3 linked regions of the Homo sapiens genome follow. The protein of the gene in region 3 purifies or fractionates together with the protein of the main gene of each other region. This does not show direct contact. Each region holds a gene or a part of one and is shown on either strand. Other genes may lie near its edges.

What was found. Proteins that work in one complex are often made in the same cells at the same time.
Region 1: the proteins of TRMT10A (region 3) and SAE1 fractionate together in Homo sapiens (co-fractionation; one large-scale study listed by BioGRID). This does not show direct contact.
Region 2: the proteins of TRMT10A (region 3) and PPP2R5E fractionate together in Homo sapiens (co-fractionation; one large-scale study listed by BioGRID). This does not show direct contact.

Annotation. Positions count from the first base shown.
Region 1 is NC_000019.10:47,136,266-47,141,395, reverse strand, and holds part of SAE1 (SUMO-activating enzyme subunit 1), read right to left. Parts: intron 1-5,130. UniProt on the Homo sapiens protein: The heterodimer acts as an E1 ligase for SUMO1, SUMO2, SUMO3, and probably SUMO4. It mediates ATP-dependent activation of SUMO proteins followed by formation of a thioester bond between a SUMO protein and a conserved active site cysteine residue on UBA2/SAE2.
Region 2 is NC_000014.9:63,396,317-63,401,446, forward strand, and holds part of PPP2R5E (serine/threonine-protein phosphatase 2A 56 kDa regulatory subunit epsilon isoform), read right to left. Parts: intron 401-5,130; coding exon 270-400; intron 1-269. UniProt on the Homo sapiens protein: The B regulatory subunit might modulate substrate selectivity and catalytic activity, and might also direct the localization of the catalytic enzyme to a particular subcellular compartment.
Region 3 is NC_000004.12:99,553,318-99,558,447, forward strand, and holds part of TRMT10A (tRNA methyltransferase 10 homolog A), read right to left. Parts: intron 4,895-5,130; coding exon 4,732-4,894; intron 4,100-4,731; coding exon 4,028-4,099; intron 2,904-4,027; coding exon 2,829-2,903; intron 618-2,828; coding exon 468-617; intron 1-467. UniProt on the Homo sapiens protein: S-adenosyl-L-methionine-dependent guanine N(1)-methyltransferase that catalyzes the formation of N(1)-methylguanine at position 9 (m1G9) in tRNAs. Probably not able to catalyze formation of N(1)-methyladenine at position 9 (m1A9) in tRNAs.

The sequences.
Region 1 (5,130 bases), on a different chromosome or scaffold from region 3:
CTGAGATGGGTGGATCACCTGAGGTCAGGAGTTCGAGACCAGCCTGTCCAACATGGTGAAACACCCTCTCTACTAAAAATACAAAAAAAATTATGGCCAGGCGTGGGGGCTCACGCCTGTAATCCCAGCACTTTGGGAGGCCAAGGCGGGCAGATCACTTGAGTCCAGGGGTTCGAGACCAGCCTGGCTAACATGGCAAAACCGTGTCTCTACAGAAAATACAAAAATTAGCCAGGCGTGGTGGCAGGCGCCTGTAGTCCCAGTTACTCGGGACAGTGAGGCAGGAGAATCACTCAAACCTGGGAGGCGGAGGTTGCAGTAAGCGGAGATCATGCCAGTCTGGGTGACACAGCGAGACTCTGTTTAAAAAAAAAAAATTAGCTGGGCATGTTGGTGGCGGGCACCTGTAATCCTAGCTATTTGGGAGGCTGAGGCAGGAGAATCGCTTGAACCTGAGAGGCAGAGGTTTCAATGAGCCAAGACTGTGCCGCTGCACTCCATCCCAGGTGACAGACTCCGTCTCAAAAAAAATTAAATTAAATTAAATTAAATACTCAACTGCCATCAACACCAAATACCATGTTTACGTTTTGTTTTATTGAAACAGGGTCTCATTCTGTGAACCCAGATTGAAGGGCAGTGGCAAGATCAGGGCTCGCTGCAGCCTCAACCTCCCAGGTTCAAGTGATCCCGCCACCTCGGCCTATTGAGTCCTGGGACTATAGGTGCACACCACTGCACCTGGCTGATTTATGGGTTTTTTTTTTTTTTTGTAGACACAGGGTCTCACTATGTTGCCCAGGCTCATCTCCAGCTCCTGGGCTCAAGCAATCTTCCTGCCTCTGCCTCCCTCAAAGTGCTGGGTTTACAAATCCCATCACTTTGGGAGGCCAAGGTGGGTAGATCACCTGAAGTCAGGAGTTCGAGACCAGCCTGGCCAACATGGTGAAACCCCATCTCTACTAAAATTACAAAAATTAGCCGGGCGTGGGCTGGGCACGGTGGCTCACACCTGTAATCCCAGCACTTTGGGAGGCCGAGACAGGCAGATCACGAGGTCAGAAGACCGAGACCATCCTGGCTAACAAGGTGAAACCCTATCTCTACTAAAAATATAAAAAATTAGCTGGGCATGGTGGCGGGCGCCTGTAGTCCCAGCTACTCGGGAGGCTAAGGCAAGAGAATGGCGTGAACCCGGGAGGTGGAGTTTGCAGTGAGCCGAGATGGCGCCACTGCATTCCATCCTGGGCAACAGAACAAGGGTCTGTTTCAAAAAGAAAAAAAAAAAAAATTAGCCGGGAGTGGTGGCAGGCGCCTGTAATCTCAGCTACTCGGGAAGCTGAGGCAGGAGAATCGCTTGAACCCGGGAGGCGGAGGTTGCAGTGAGCCGAGACCGCACCATTGCACTTCAGCCTGGACGAAAGAGCGAGACTCCGTCTCAAAAAAAAAAAAAAAAAAAGAAATACCCAAGTGGGCACAAAAATGATACACATTCAGCAGGGCACGGTGCCTCACGCCTATAATCCCAACACTTTGGGAGGCCAAGGCGGGCAGATCACGAGGTCAGGAGATTGAGATCATCCTGGCTAACATGGTAAAACCCCGTTTCTACTAAAAATACAAAAAAAAAAAAAAAAAAATTGGCCGGGAGTGGTGGCGGGTGCCTGTAGTCCCAGCTACTCGGGAGGCTGAGACAGGAGAATGGTGTGAACCCGGAAGGTGTAGCTTGCAGTGAGCCGAGATCGCGCCACTGCACTCCAGCCTGGGTGACAAGAGTGAGACTCTGTCTCAAAAAAAAAAAAAAAAAAAGATACACATTCACAGCAGCATTGTCCATCTACTTCCCTCAAGTTCCACAAACACCACTCTAGTCTGAGCCACCATCGTTTCTCTCCGACAAAACTACAGCAGGCTGGACGCAGTGGGTCACACCTGTAATCCCAGCACTTTAGGAGGGCAAGGCATGAGGATCACTTGAGCCCATGAGTTCGAAACCAGCCTGGGCAACAAAGTAAGACTCCATCTGTACAAAACAAAAAAAAATTAGCTGGGTGTGCCAGGCGCGGCGACTCACGCCTGTAATCCCAGCACTTTGGGAGGCCAAGGTGGGAGGACCATGAGTTCAGGAGATGGAGACCATCGTGGCTAACACGGTGAAACCCCGTCTCTACTAAAAATACACAAAATTAGCCGAGGCGGTCGGATCACTTGAGGTCAGGAGTTCGAGACCAGCCTGGCCAATATGGTGAAACTCCATCTCTACTCAAAATACAAAAATTAGCCAGGCGTGGTGGCACGTGCCTGTAGTCCCAGCTACTCGGGAGGCTGATCCTAGAGAACATCATCCTTGCTCCCATCCTTGCTCCCACCTTAGGACCTTGGCATTAGTGCTTCCCATTGCTTCTTCCCTCAACTTCTTAAGGGACACATTCTTTAGGTCTCAGCTCAATTGTCACCTCCTTAGAGAAGTCCATACTGGCCACCTAATTTAAAATAGGTCCACATCCTCTTCTATCTCGAATTATGCTACTTGTTTTTGTTTTGATTAAGATGGGGTCTGTGTTGCCCACTGTTTTGATTGAAATGGGGCCTCACTAAGTTGCCCAAGCTAGTCTCAATTGCCTGGCTCAAGTGATCCTCCAACCTCAGCCTCCCCAGTAGCTGGGATCACAGCCACACACCACTGTGCTAAGCTACACTACTTGTTTATATGTTTACTGCCCCCTCCTCCATTAGAATGTAAACTCCAGAAACCACTGTATCACTAGAACCAGTAACTTCCTTGGCATTTAGGACATACTGTTACTCAAATGGCTGTGAATTAATAGACACACCAAAACAAACCTGTGTCCATCAGCAGAATTATAGAAATCTGGTACATAATAAAATAATAATGGCCAACATTTATCTAACACTTACTATGTGCCAAGCACTGTTCTACTAAGCTCTTTGTATGTATTATGTCATTTAATTCCCATGACAATCTAATGGGCTGGCACTTTGTTACCCCTCTTTTGCAGCTGAGAAAACAGGCACAAAGAAGGTAACTTCTGGCCAGGCGCAGTGGCTCATGCCTGTAATCCCAGCACTTAAGGAGGCTGAGGCGGGTAGATCACCTGAGGTCAGGAGTTCAAGACCACCCTGGCCAACATGGCGAAACCTGGTCTCTACTAAAAATACAAACATTAGCTGGGCGCGGTAGCAGGCGCCTGTAATCCCAGCTACTTAGGAGGCTGAGGCAGGAGAATTGCCTGAACCCGGGAGGCAGAGGTTGCAGTGAGTCTAGATCACGCCATTGCACTCCAGCCTGGGCAACAAGAGAGAAATTCCGTCTCAAAAAAATAAAAAAATAAAATACACACACATAGGCCGGGTGTAGTGGCTCACGCCTGTAATCCCAGCACTTTGGGAGGCCGAGGTGGGCAGATCACTTGAAGTGAGGAGTTTGAGACCAGCCTGGCCAACATGGTAAAACCCCGTCTCTACTAAAAATATAAAAATCAGCCAGGTGTGGTGGCACGCGCCTGTAATCCGAGCTACTCCAGAGGCTAAGGCAGGAGAATCGCTTGAACTCAGGAGGCGGAGGTTGCAGTGAGCCAAGATTGTGCCACTGCACTCCAGCCTGGGCGACAGAGTGAGAGTCCATCACAAAAAAAAAAAAAAAACAACACACACACACACACACACACACAATCAGCTGAGTGTTACGGCATACGCCATGCACACACAAAATTAGCTGAGTGATATGGCATACGCCTGTGGTCCCAGCTACTTGGGGGCTGAGGCGGGAGAATCCCTTGAACCCGGGAGGTGGAGGTTGCAGTGAGCTGAAGATCACGTCACTGCGTCACTGCACTCCAGCCTGGGTAACAGAGCGAGAAAAAAAAATTTTAGTTGTAATTGTCAACTATCAATAAAAACTCCAGAAACTTGGCCTCAATTTAAGCAACCAAATCTGCTCTAGGAAGCTGCTTCTTTACTTTATTTTATTTTATTTATTTATTTTTGAGACAGAGTTTCGCTCTTGTCACCCAGGCTGGAGTGCGATAGTGTGACCTTGGCTCACTAAAACCTCTGCCTCCTGGATTCAAACAATTCTCCTGCCTCAGCCTCCCAAGTAGTTGGGATTACAAGCACCCACCACCACACCTGGCTAATTTTTTTTGTATTTTTAGTAGAGACGGTCACCATGTTGGCCAGGCTAGTCTCGAACTCCTGACCTCAGGTGATCCACCCACCTCGGCCTCTCAAAGTCCTGGGATTACAGGCTGAGTCACTGTGACGGCCTTTACTCTCTTTTAATCCACAACAGTCCCTTCACTTATTTTTCCCATGAAACTGACTTTTGGAAGAGAAGTAGGATAACTGTCTTATAAAATGCCCCACAATTTGTACATTTTATCAGCCTGCCCATTTCCAGGGCTTCTGTTTCATAAAGGAACTCCAGTCTCCAGAGTTCTCCTATCCCACCTAGAACCCTCCTATCCCACCTAGAGCCCTCTTAGAGGCAAGTCAATTTGCTCTGTGGAGCCTCCTTCCTCATCTGAACAGAGAAGGAAATCACTGCCCTTCCGACTCCAGAGAGCTGCTATAAGACTCAGGTGAAGGCCGGGGGCTGTGGCTCATGCCTGTAATCCCAGCACTTTGGGAGGCCAAGGCGGGCGGATCACCTGAGGTCAGGAGTTCACAGCCTGACCAACATGGAGGAATCCCGTCTCTACTAAAATACAAAATTAGCCGGGCATGGTGGCACACGCCTGTAATCCCAGCTACTTGGGAGGCTGAACCAGAAGAATTGCTTGAACCTGGGAGGCAAGGGTTGCGGTGAGCTGAGATCACGCCACCATACTCCAGTCTGGGTAACAAGAGCGAAACTCCGTCTCAAAAAAAAAAAAAAAAAAGACTCGGGTAAAAATGCAATCCCACTGCTAGGTATATACCCAAATGAAAATAAATCAGGCTGGGTGTGGTGGCTCACGCCTGTAATTGCAACACTTTGGGGGGCCAAGGAGGGCCAATCACCTGAAGCCAGGAGTTTGAGACCAGCCTGGCCAACACAGCAACCCCATCTCTACTAAAAAATACAAAGATTAGCCGGGCGTGGTGGCAGGTGCCTGTAATCTCAGCTAC
Region 2 (5,130 bases), on a different chromosome or scaffold from region 3:
GGAGAGGAAGAGGAAAAGAGGAGGAAGAGGAGGGTGGGAGGAGAAGATGGGGGAGGAGAGGAGAAGATGGGGGAGGAGAGGAGAAGATGGGGGAGGAGAGGAGGGGGAGGGGGTAGAGGAAGAGGCAGGAGAGTCAGTAGAATGAAGGAAGGCAGGCAGAAAGGGAGAAAGAGAAGTCAGTACACCGTTTTCAGATATTTGAGATTTACTTAATACTCATAAAAACACCAACTTTGCTTCTCCTTCTTCCCCCATCACACTCCACTTACCTTAGAAAAATATTGTTAATCTGTTTTCGGATAAATGCTCTAAGACCAAGAAACTTGCCATAAATTCTGTGTAAGACTGTTTTTAAGTAGTCCCGTTCCCGAGGGTCTTCGCTGTCAAATAGCTCCAGAAGCTGTTGTAAATGAAAGACATTATAGCTGTCAAAGGCGGTTTCAGAAAAGGATTTAGGAATTCTATTATTTAAAATCCCCTTCTTCCTTCCTCAAAAAATGTGTTGAATATCTATTATGTGCCAAGCACAGTGCTAGTCTTTGGGCATATCATGATAAACAAGTCAGACAAGGAGCTTATATTCCACTAAAGAAATACAAATACAAAATAACAACAATAAAAGTAATAATATGAATAATAGCTAATACACATATGGCACTTACTGTGATCATCAGGCAATTTTCCAAGCAATCTACATATTAATCCTCCCAATGAGATAGTTTTGTCCCCCTTTTACAGAAGAGGAAACTGGGGCACATAGGGTTAAGTAACGTGCCCACGGTCTCACAGCTAATAGGTGGTAAAGCTAGAATTTGAACCCCAGCAGTTGAGGCCAAAAGTCCGTAGCTCAACCACTGCACTATGCTACCTACTGATATTCCAAATATGCAGTTAAAATAAGCTGACTGCCTGTGGTGACTCATGCCTGTAATCCCAGCACCTGGGGAGGCCAAGGCAGGCGCATCACCTGAGGTCAGGAGTTTAAGACCAGCCTGGCCAACATGGTGAAACCCCGTCTCTAGTAAAAATACAAAAATTAGCCAGGTGTGGTGGCGGGCACCTGTAATCCCAGCTACTCAGAAGGCTGAGGCAGGAGAATCACCTGAACCCAGGAGGCAGAGGTTACAGTGAGCTGCGATCGCGCCATTGCACTCCAGCCTGGGCCATAGAGCAAGATTCGGTCTTTAAAAAAAAAAAAAAAAAAAAAAAAAAAAGGATAAGCCTTCAGCTCTACTAGAACATCTAGGAAAATGAAAAAACCTGAATCAAAACAAACATCAAAATGTCTCAATGATACTGGCAATGGTCCTTTTTAGATCCAGACTCTTGTTATGTAGGTGTGCTCACTCTGTAAATAGTCAACGAAGTGAACATTGATTATTTCTGTTGTATGTTATATGTGAATAACTTTTTTTTTTTTTTTTTGAGATGGAGTATTGCTCTGTTGCCCAGGCTGGAGTGCAGTGGCACGATCTCAGCTCACTGCAACCTCCGCCTCCTGTGTTCAAGCAAGCAATTCTCCTGTCTCAGCCTCCTGAGTAGCTGGGACTAAAGGCACCTACCACCGTGCCCAGCTAATTTTTTGTATTTTTAGCAGAGACAGGGTTTCACCATATTGGTCAGGCTAGTCTCAAACTCCAGAACTCAGGTGATCCACCCACCTCAGCCTCCCAAAGTGCTGGGATTAGAGGTGTGAGCCACCATGCCTGGCTGTGAATAACATGTTTAAGTTCCCAAACATTTGTAATCTAAAGTTAATAACCAAATCCTGATAACATCACATCTACATGCTCAAAATGAGGTCCACGCAACTAGTCCAAAAGAGGTAACAAGCTAAAGTTTCAGCCAAATGCCAGTGAGCACAACAGATTCAACTCAATCTCTATCAAAAGTTCTAGCTGCTTTGTTTTTGTATCATTGACAAGTTGATCCTAAAATTCATATGGAAATGCAAGAGAACCAGAAGAGCCAAAATACTCTTGAGGGAAACAAAACTTGAAAGATTCACACTTCTCTATTTCAAAACTTAGTCCAAAATACCAAGACAGTGTGGTACTGGCATAAAGACAGACATACAGATTAATGGAATAGAATTAAGAGCCCAAAAGTAAGCCCTCACATTTATGGTCAACTGATTTTCAACAAGAATGGTCAATAAACCATGAAAAGTGCTCTATTTTATTGATCATTACAGAAAAGCAAACCCTGGCTCACGCCTGTAATCCTAGCACTTTTGGAGGCCGAGGGGGTAGATCACGAGGTCAGGGGTTTGAGATCAGCCTGGCCAACATGGTGAAATCCTGTCTCCACTAAAAATACAAAAATTAGCCAGGCGTGCTGGCACATGCCTGTAATCCCAGGTATTCGGGAGGCTGAGGCAGAAGAATTGCTTGAACCTGGGAGGTGGAGTTTGCAGTGAGCCGAGATCGCGCTGCTGCACTACAGCCTAGGCAACAGAGGAAGACTCCATCTCAGAAAAAAAGAAAAGAAAAGAAAACCCAACCAACAAAGAGATACTCATTGGATGGCTATAATGAAAAAGAGGGATAATAAAAAGTGTTGGCGAGGATATGGAGAAACTGGAACCCTCATACATTGTTGGTAAGAATGTAAAATGGTGCAGCTATTTCAGAAAACAGTTTGGCAGTTCCTTAAATCTCCCACAGAGTTACTATATGACTAAGCGATTCCACTTTCATGTATATATCCAGCAGAACCGAAAACACATGTCCACACAAAAACTTGTACACAGATGTTCATGGGAGCAATATTCATAATAGCTAAAAACTGAAACAACCCAAATATCCGTCAACTGATAAACAAAATGGGATGCCATGGAATATTATTCAGCCATAAAAAGGAACAAAGTAACTGATACATGTTACAACATCAATGAATCTTTCAAACATCATGCTAAGTAAGTAAAAGAAACCAGACACAGAAGGCCATACAATGTATGACTCCATTTATGTGAAATAAGCAGAATAGGCAAATCCATAGTGACAGAAAGTAGAATGGGGAGTGGCTACTAATAGGTCTGGATTTCTTTCTTTTTTTTTTTTTTTTTTTTTTTTTTTTTTTTGAGACAGAGTCTTGCTCTGTCACTAGGCTGGAGTGCAGTGGCGCTATCTCGGCTTACTGAAACCTCCGCCTTCCGGGTTCAAGCGATTCTCCTGCTTCAGCCTCCTGTGGGTCTGGATTTCTTTGAGGGATGATAAAAACATCCTGCAATGATACTGTGGTGATGGTTGCATGACTCTGTAAACATACTAAAAACCACTAAATTGGAAACTTTAAAATGGTGAATTTTATGGTGTATGAATTACAACACAATAAATCTGCTACCTTTACAAAAAGTCAGTGTGCAAGTTCCTCTGGCTGAAGAACAAACTTGGAAATTGGTTTGAATGTTACTGAGTTGTTTTTTTTAACATTCATCATCATTGCAATAAAGCAAAATTCAGTTCTAGTGTCTTTACAGCAAAACATTTCAAGAGCACATAACACACAAATTAGACTACCATCGTCATCAAAAAGGCTATCCAGATATATGTAAGTTTGACCTCAGGTGATTTAGACATGAGGTTGACACTGACAGCAGAATAAAAACCTCATGGTCAATAATCGAATGTGCTTTTGTTCGGTGTTTTAATTTGAATAAAAGACAAGAGTTATGGACCAAAAAAAGGCCCCTCAAACATGGCAGGAAACGCAAACTAAAGGATGGTCTTCAAAAATAGGTAGAGACAGGACACAATTTTTAGCTACATAATGCCATCCACCATCCATCTATCATTCATTCATCTGTTCATTTTAAAAATGAGTATTTCAAGTAAATATTTATGGTGTGCTTATTAAAAGCCAGCCAGTGGGCGAGCTGTCAGGGATACAATGATAAGCAAGACAGATACAGTCTTTGCTTTCTCAGAGCCTATTCTAATGGGGAATACAAACAAGTAAATAAACAGCATGTTAAGTAGTTCAGGATGTTGTATAAATACACAGCAGACACATCTACTGTATTTGGAAGAAGTGGAGTGATCAGCAAAGGCTTCTAAAGGAAGAGACATCCAGGCTGACCGATGAAGAAATGAGGAGTTAGAAGTGGGATATGAGTGCTCCTCACAGGTTCAATAGTACATGCTTTTCCTAGCAGCCTATCCAAACAGAAGATGTTGTTAACTACAGCTCTCTGCCCATTCAGCAATACAATAAATACATACGTACTGAGTTCTTTCTATGTGCCAGCGATGGTCCTCATTGCTGGACATACACATTGTTGAACAATTTTGGAGCCCATCAGGGGAGGTAATGGGCAAGTTAATACATTTCCACAGGAAAACATTCTATCTAGGAAAGAAAGGCATGTGGCCCCAACCAGCCAAAAAAAAAAGGCCCCATATAGACTCAGTATCTCTTTATCTATAACATGTTCCAAATGACATAAGACCTCTAATCCACCTACCCAATCCACCCATCCACCCATTCCCATTCCAAGGTTAATAGAAATAATTAACCTTGTAAGTTTTATTTTTTAAATTTCGTTTCTACTTTTAAGTGTTTCAAAAGGCTTTAATGAATAACTTGTAACCAACATAAGAGAAGGTTTGAGGGTGTGTAGTATTAGCAAAACTTGAATCAACCTTCCTTGTATACTGTTAATCTTGAGTTTAATGAATACACAATAATTAAGCAAGAAATGTTTGATGTTTTCATTAGGCTCTCAACAAAATGCATTGCCGAGTGCCTAACTTTAGATATTTACAAAGCCACAAATATTAAATGTATCATATTCTATGAGAAAGATGAATTGCAGTATTAAACTATTTTTCTGCTTCTCTGTAGAGAACATGCTTTTGATGATTTTATGATGTATGAGAGAGAAATATAATAGTGCACAGGCCAAAACAAGGGGGGGTAGGATGAACTCTGATGAGCTCTGATTTCCAAAACAAAATAATATGAGTGTGCTTAGTCATATCTATAGTCCCAATCACTCCCACACAAAAAAGAAATATAATCCCACACCTGTAAATGCCTAAGTGGACTGTGCCATCCCTAATATAACAGGTAGCTTGTAGTCAAAGAAAAGAAGTTAAGAAGCTGGAGCGTTTCCAAGGTGATTACAGA
Region 3 (5,130 bases):
TGGATGGGAAGAGAGAAAAGTACAAATGAAAGATAATAGAAAAAACATCCCATGAAAATAACATATTTAAAAACTAGTTTAAGTTCCAATGGCTTAGCAATTGATTAGCAGCAGAATCTTCTATCAGTAAAGCATAGACAGCATTTAAGCATGTGGACTCCAGAGCAATCAGCCTGGTTTCAAATAGCTGCTTTGTCACCTACTACTGTTGATTTTAGACTTAATTTCTCTGTGCCATGAATTCCTTACTTGTGGAACGTAAATAATAATAGCACTAATCTCACTGGGTTGAGTGAAGATTAAGCAAGCTAACTTATGTGAAATACTTTGCTTAGCTCAGAAGGTGACTGACATATAGTAGGCACTCAATAAAGATGAGCTATCATTAGTATTATTGTTACTTTCAGGAAATGGTGATATATCAATTTTAAGAACAAGCAAAAGCAAAAATAAAAATTTAATAGTACCTTGTGATGGTTGTGATCTACTAATCCTCCAATCACATAGGCCTTTGATTCATCTAATTCCTTCAGTATATTAGGTGAATCTGACGTAAGGTAAATCAGGTCTTCTTTCTTTATGAGTTCACTATAGTGCTCTGGTTTGATATGGATATCCTTTAAGACAACAGGGAAAGAGGTTACTAATTAATAAGACCTTATGAAAGTTGGCTAAAAATGATTATTCTCTTTTCCCAAAACAAATCCATTCAAAAATATATGAAACAAAGTTTGAAATAATATAATTACAATGCATTATTTTGAATTTACTACATCAATTTCTTATATCTCACACTTTGATCATTTAAATAGCCTCTTAATTTTATTTCCTCCTTGTTGGCCTCAGACCCCTCCAACCTACTTCCACACACTGATAGCAGGCTCATTTTCTAAAAACACTACTTTCAATGTTTTATCTTTTTCTGTGGGATAAAATCTGAAATCCTTAATTTAAAAACTCTTTCCTGAATATGGCAGTAATCTACTTTTCCAACTTTATTTCTGTTCCAACAAAACAAACGCATTTTTACTGCCACATATTTGCTCACATTGTTCTATGACCAAAGAATGCCTTCTCCAATTACTTCCTCTCCATCTACATGAATCATGAAAGGGAAATAGCTGGCCACGTGCGGTGGCTCATGCCTGTAATCCCAGCACTTTGGAAGGCTGAGGCAGGTGGATCACAAGGTCAGGAGTTCGAGACCAGCCTGGCCAACATGGTGAAACCCTGTCTCTACTAAAAATACAAAAATTAGCTGGGTGTGGTGGCGGGCTCCTGTAATCCCAGCTACTCGGGAGGCTGAGGCTGGAGAATTGTTTGAATCCCGGAGGCAGAGGTTGCAGTGAGCCGAGATTGCACCATTGCACTCCAGCCTGGGTGACAGTGCAAGCGACTACGTTTCAAAAAAAAAAAAAAAAAAAGAAAGAAAAAAAGAAAAGGAAATAGTTTATAGATTTAATTAATTCCATGTATCTGTTTCTACAAAGAGACACACATTTGAAAACTTCTTCACCAAAATTGTCAGGTCACAGGTACAAAATTGAACAATAGCTGGCAGTCATGATTTTGTAAGCCACATTGACTGCATAAAAGATGTATCACCAGGCTCAGATGACATTTATCCATAATTTTTAATGAAACCAAGAATGAGGCAAAAGAACTCTCTCCTAAAATGTATAATTAATAAATAGCCAGTTTTCTGGAAAATGTTATATTACAAATTTAAGGCCCCAAGAGGAACCTGATTAATTAGAGACCAATGAATCTCAAGTCTCTCTGGAAAGGTGATGGTATAAATGATAAATTTAACAAGTCGCAAAATAACTGAAAACATGCCTCTTTTAATTTATTACACTAGTTCTTGGAAAAATGGGCACAAATACAGGATTTGGTAAATATACTGTACTTAAAAACTTAAAAGCCTTTGAAAATGTTTCATATCATAGGCTATTAATAAAATAAATGCCTTTGTTATGGAATTAGTGAGTGTGAAAGGGAAAGTGTGTCACTGAGAGAACTGACTTTGAGAAAGAAAAAAGGTATAGGGATAACCCAGTACTTCCCTAAATAGGATCAAGTTCCTCAGGGACTGGTACCAAGGCCAATCTATTTAGTCACCTTTACCAATGACTGAGAACAATTTGGTCCAATAGAAAAAACTGTGAGGCCACATAGGCAATTTTAAATATTCTAGTATCCAAATTTTAAAAAGTGAAAATAGGTGAAATTAATTTTAACAATTTATTTTATTAATACAGTATACCCAAAAGTTTATCATTTAAACATATAATAAATATTTTAAAAATTACCTAGGAGATATTCACATTCTTTCTCTTTTGTGGTACTGAGTCTTTGAAATCCAGTATGTATTTCACATTCATAGCACATCTCAATTCACAATTCAGACTGTCACATTTCAAGTTCAATAGCCACATGTGGATAGTGGCCAGCACAGAGTAAGAAGAAACAGAATGCAGGCACACTTCCAAAATTTAGAGTGACTTCATTTTTATAGGTAACATATAATGTATAGCTAGTATGTTAGGGAGAAATGATATAAAGGCCCTTAAAATTATTTCTTTTTAAAAATACGTTTTAAAAGTTGACCATAAAATAGGGAAGATTTAATGAGAACAAATACAAGCTACCAGATGTCTCACTCCCTTCTTCAGCATCTCTGATTTGTAATCTTAGACTTAGGTTCAGAGATTGCATCTGGAGATTGTTGTATTAAGTAGCATTATATAGAATTTAGGTACAAAATGTAGACCTTTAGAAACATAAAAATACTTGGAATTATGTGAGAGTTTATCTGTTTTAATTACCTTCCAGTTGACCCATCCTTTGTCATTTTCATCCATGTTCTTTTTCAGCTGGCCTCCGTGGCTTGTCAAGTAAAACTGATAAAAGATTTGTAAGTATAGAAAAAGAGAACAAATGACCATTTAAGTCTAATATTTTATTTCTCTCATCTACTTATCTGACGATCAATGAAACACAAAATATATTTATTCTCATTCATCTAGAAAAAAAATTTGTGACATGCTTTGAGCAAACAATAAACTGTGGTAGAAATAGTACGTTTTGTGTGCATGTTTCATAACCCAGTAGCTGCAGTATCCCATTTACATTTTCATCCCAAGTAGTTATAACATGCCTGTACCTTAATCATCACTTGTCTACAAACTCCCTGCTTCCATGTCAAGTTCCCACTCCTCTTTTTTTTAAAACAATACAAAGTCTTCATAATTTTTCTTTGATTCTAAACCCTGACACCTATTTAAGTTTGAATCAAGGGTGAGAAGGGGTCTACTACAGATAAAAATGGGGATAAAAGGACTATCACAGAAGTGTGATATGAGACTATAAAACAAAAAGTATAAAAAACAAAAATACAAAATTACTATCACTTGGTAAAAACAAAATATCTAACCAAAATATATTAATAGTTCCTGGTTCTTAACATCAGTGAGCCAGTATTAATTTTTAGGTCACCTAGAATTCCAACAGAAAGATGTTATTCTTAACAGTAGCCAAATAGTCTCCCAAATCACTCCCTCACCTCAGCTTAAAAAAGACCTGTCAAAACTCTCAGTGACCCAAAAGAAAACTAAAAACCTTTAAGTAGACAAAATCTATACAACAGATACCACGACATATGTCAAGCGGTGGCAGCCACAGCTTCTGCCTCTCTGTCCAATCTCTCTCCCACACTGGAAGTAATTGTAAACTGAAAAACTGGTATAAAAATATATGTATGTCCCACAATGAAGATATCAACTACAGGCAATGAAAAGGCCAATTTGTATAAGACTGATGATTACTGGAAAGAGTGTGTCTAAGATAACATATTAAAAGATGTTTAAAATATTTTGCTTCATTTCTGTCAAAAAAATTTTTTTCACATAGGCATTAAACAAGATTACCTGTAAGACTACTGCAAAGACTATAGGAATTATCTATGTCTTTTGCCACAAAAGACATAAAAGAAAACTAGAGTCTGCTTTAAAATCTTTACACATACCTGCACAGGATGCAGTGCCCGTCGGTTTTCTGCGTAACATCGTTGAATCTGCTTATGAAGTTTCTTAATGTCCTATCACAGAGTTCAATTTTTAAAGCAAAGTTATTAAAATTGTCTATGGCCATTCTATGATCTTAAAGGAATGGAATAAGCAGAAGGGATGACTATATACATACAATTTTTCTTCTTAAATACAAATGCATTCTGATAAATGTTATTTGATTTCCTTACATACTAGCAAAATTACTGTAAGTTAATGCTCTGTAAGTGACCCATTATTTCATATTTTGTATTTATTTAAAATGCTAGTTCATGAAAACGGCTACTCTCTAAAGAGACAACAACAAGACTTTTAGAGCCATACTATTACTATTTTCATGTTTTACCAACAACACTGGTAAAACCCCACAGATCTTTATGATCAATAAGTAGTTAATTTAGTTCTGTCATCTAGACTACAAAGTGTGTGTTTGTCTCTCTTTCCTGTCTGCACACATACTGACACACACACATACACACATATATAAATACACATATTTATTATATCAATGCAATTTGCTAGCTAATTTAACTTAGGGGAAAGTTTGAAAAACTGAAGATTCATTTCAATACACAAATTTACATAAAAGGGATATTGCATATTAAAACAAAAATGATTCGACCTAATTCACATACAAGATTTTTCTGACAATGATTCATGATACCTTTAATACCATCAAGTGATCAAAACTACAGTCAATAATAAGGCGAAGGGTGCTATGAACAACATCTCTTCGAACACGTTTTCTGTCATGTCCATCTGAGTTTGGTTCCATTTGACATTGTCGCTCTAATTTTTTCCTCTTGCGTTTTTCTTTTCGCTTTTGTCTAAAATTAGTAATTGAAATAACATTTTGTTATTGTGTATTCAGTTATTTACAAGACTCTTCTAAATAAACAATTCCTTTTAAAAATCATCAGGTTAAATCATATGAAATTGTCACTTCTGTGACCATTCAAAAATGGTCAAGTATTAGCAGTTTTATACAACCCATCTAAAAGCTTCAGATAGGAAGGAAATGAGCTTCCAAAAATGATCTAAAGCTTTCTATCTAAATCCTAAC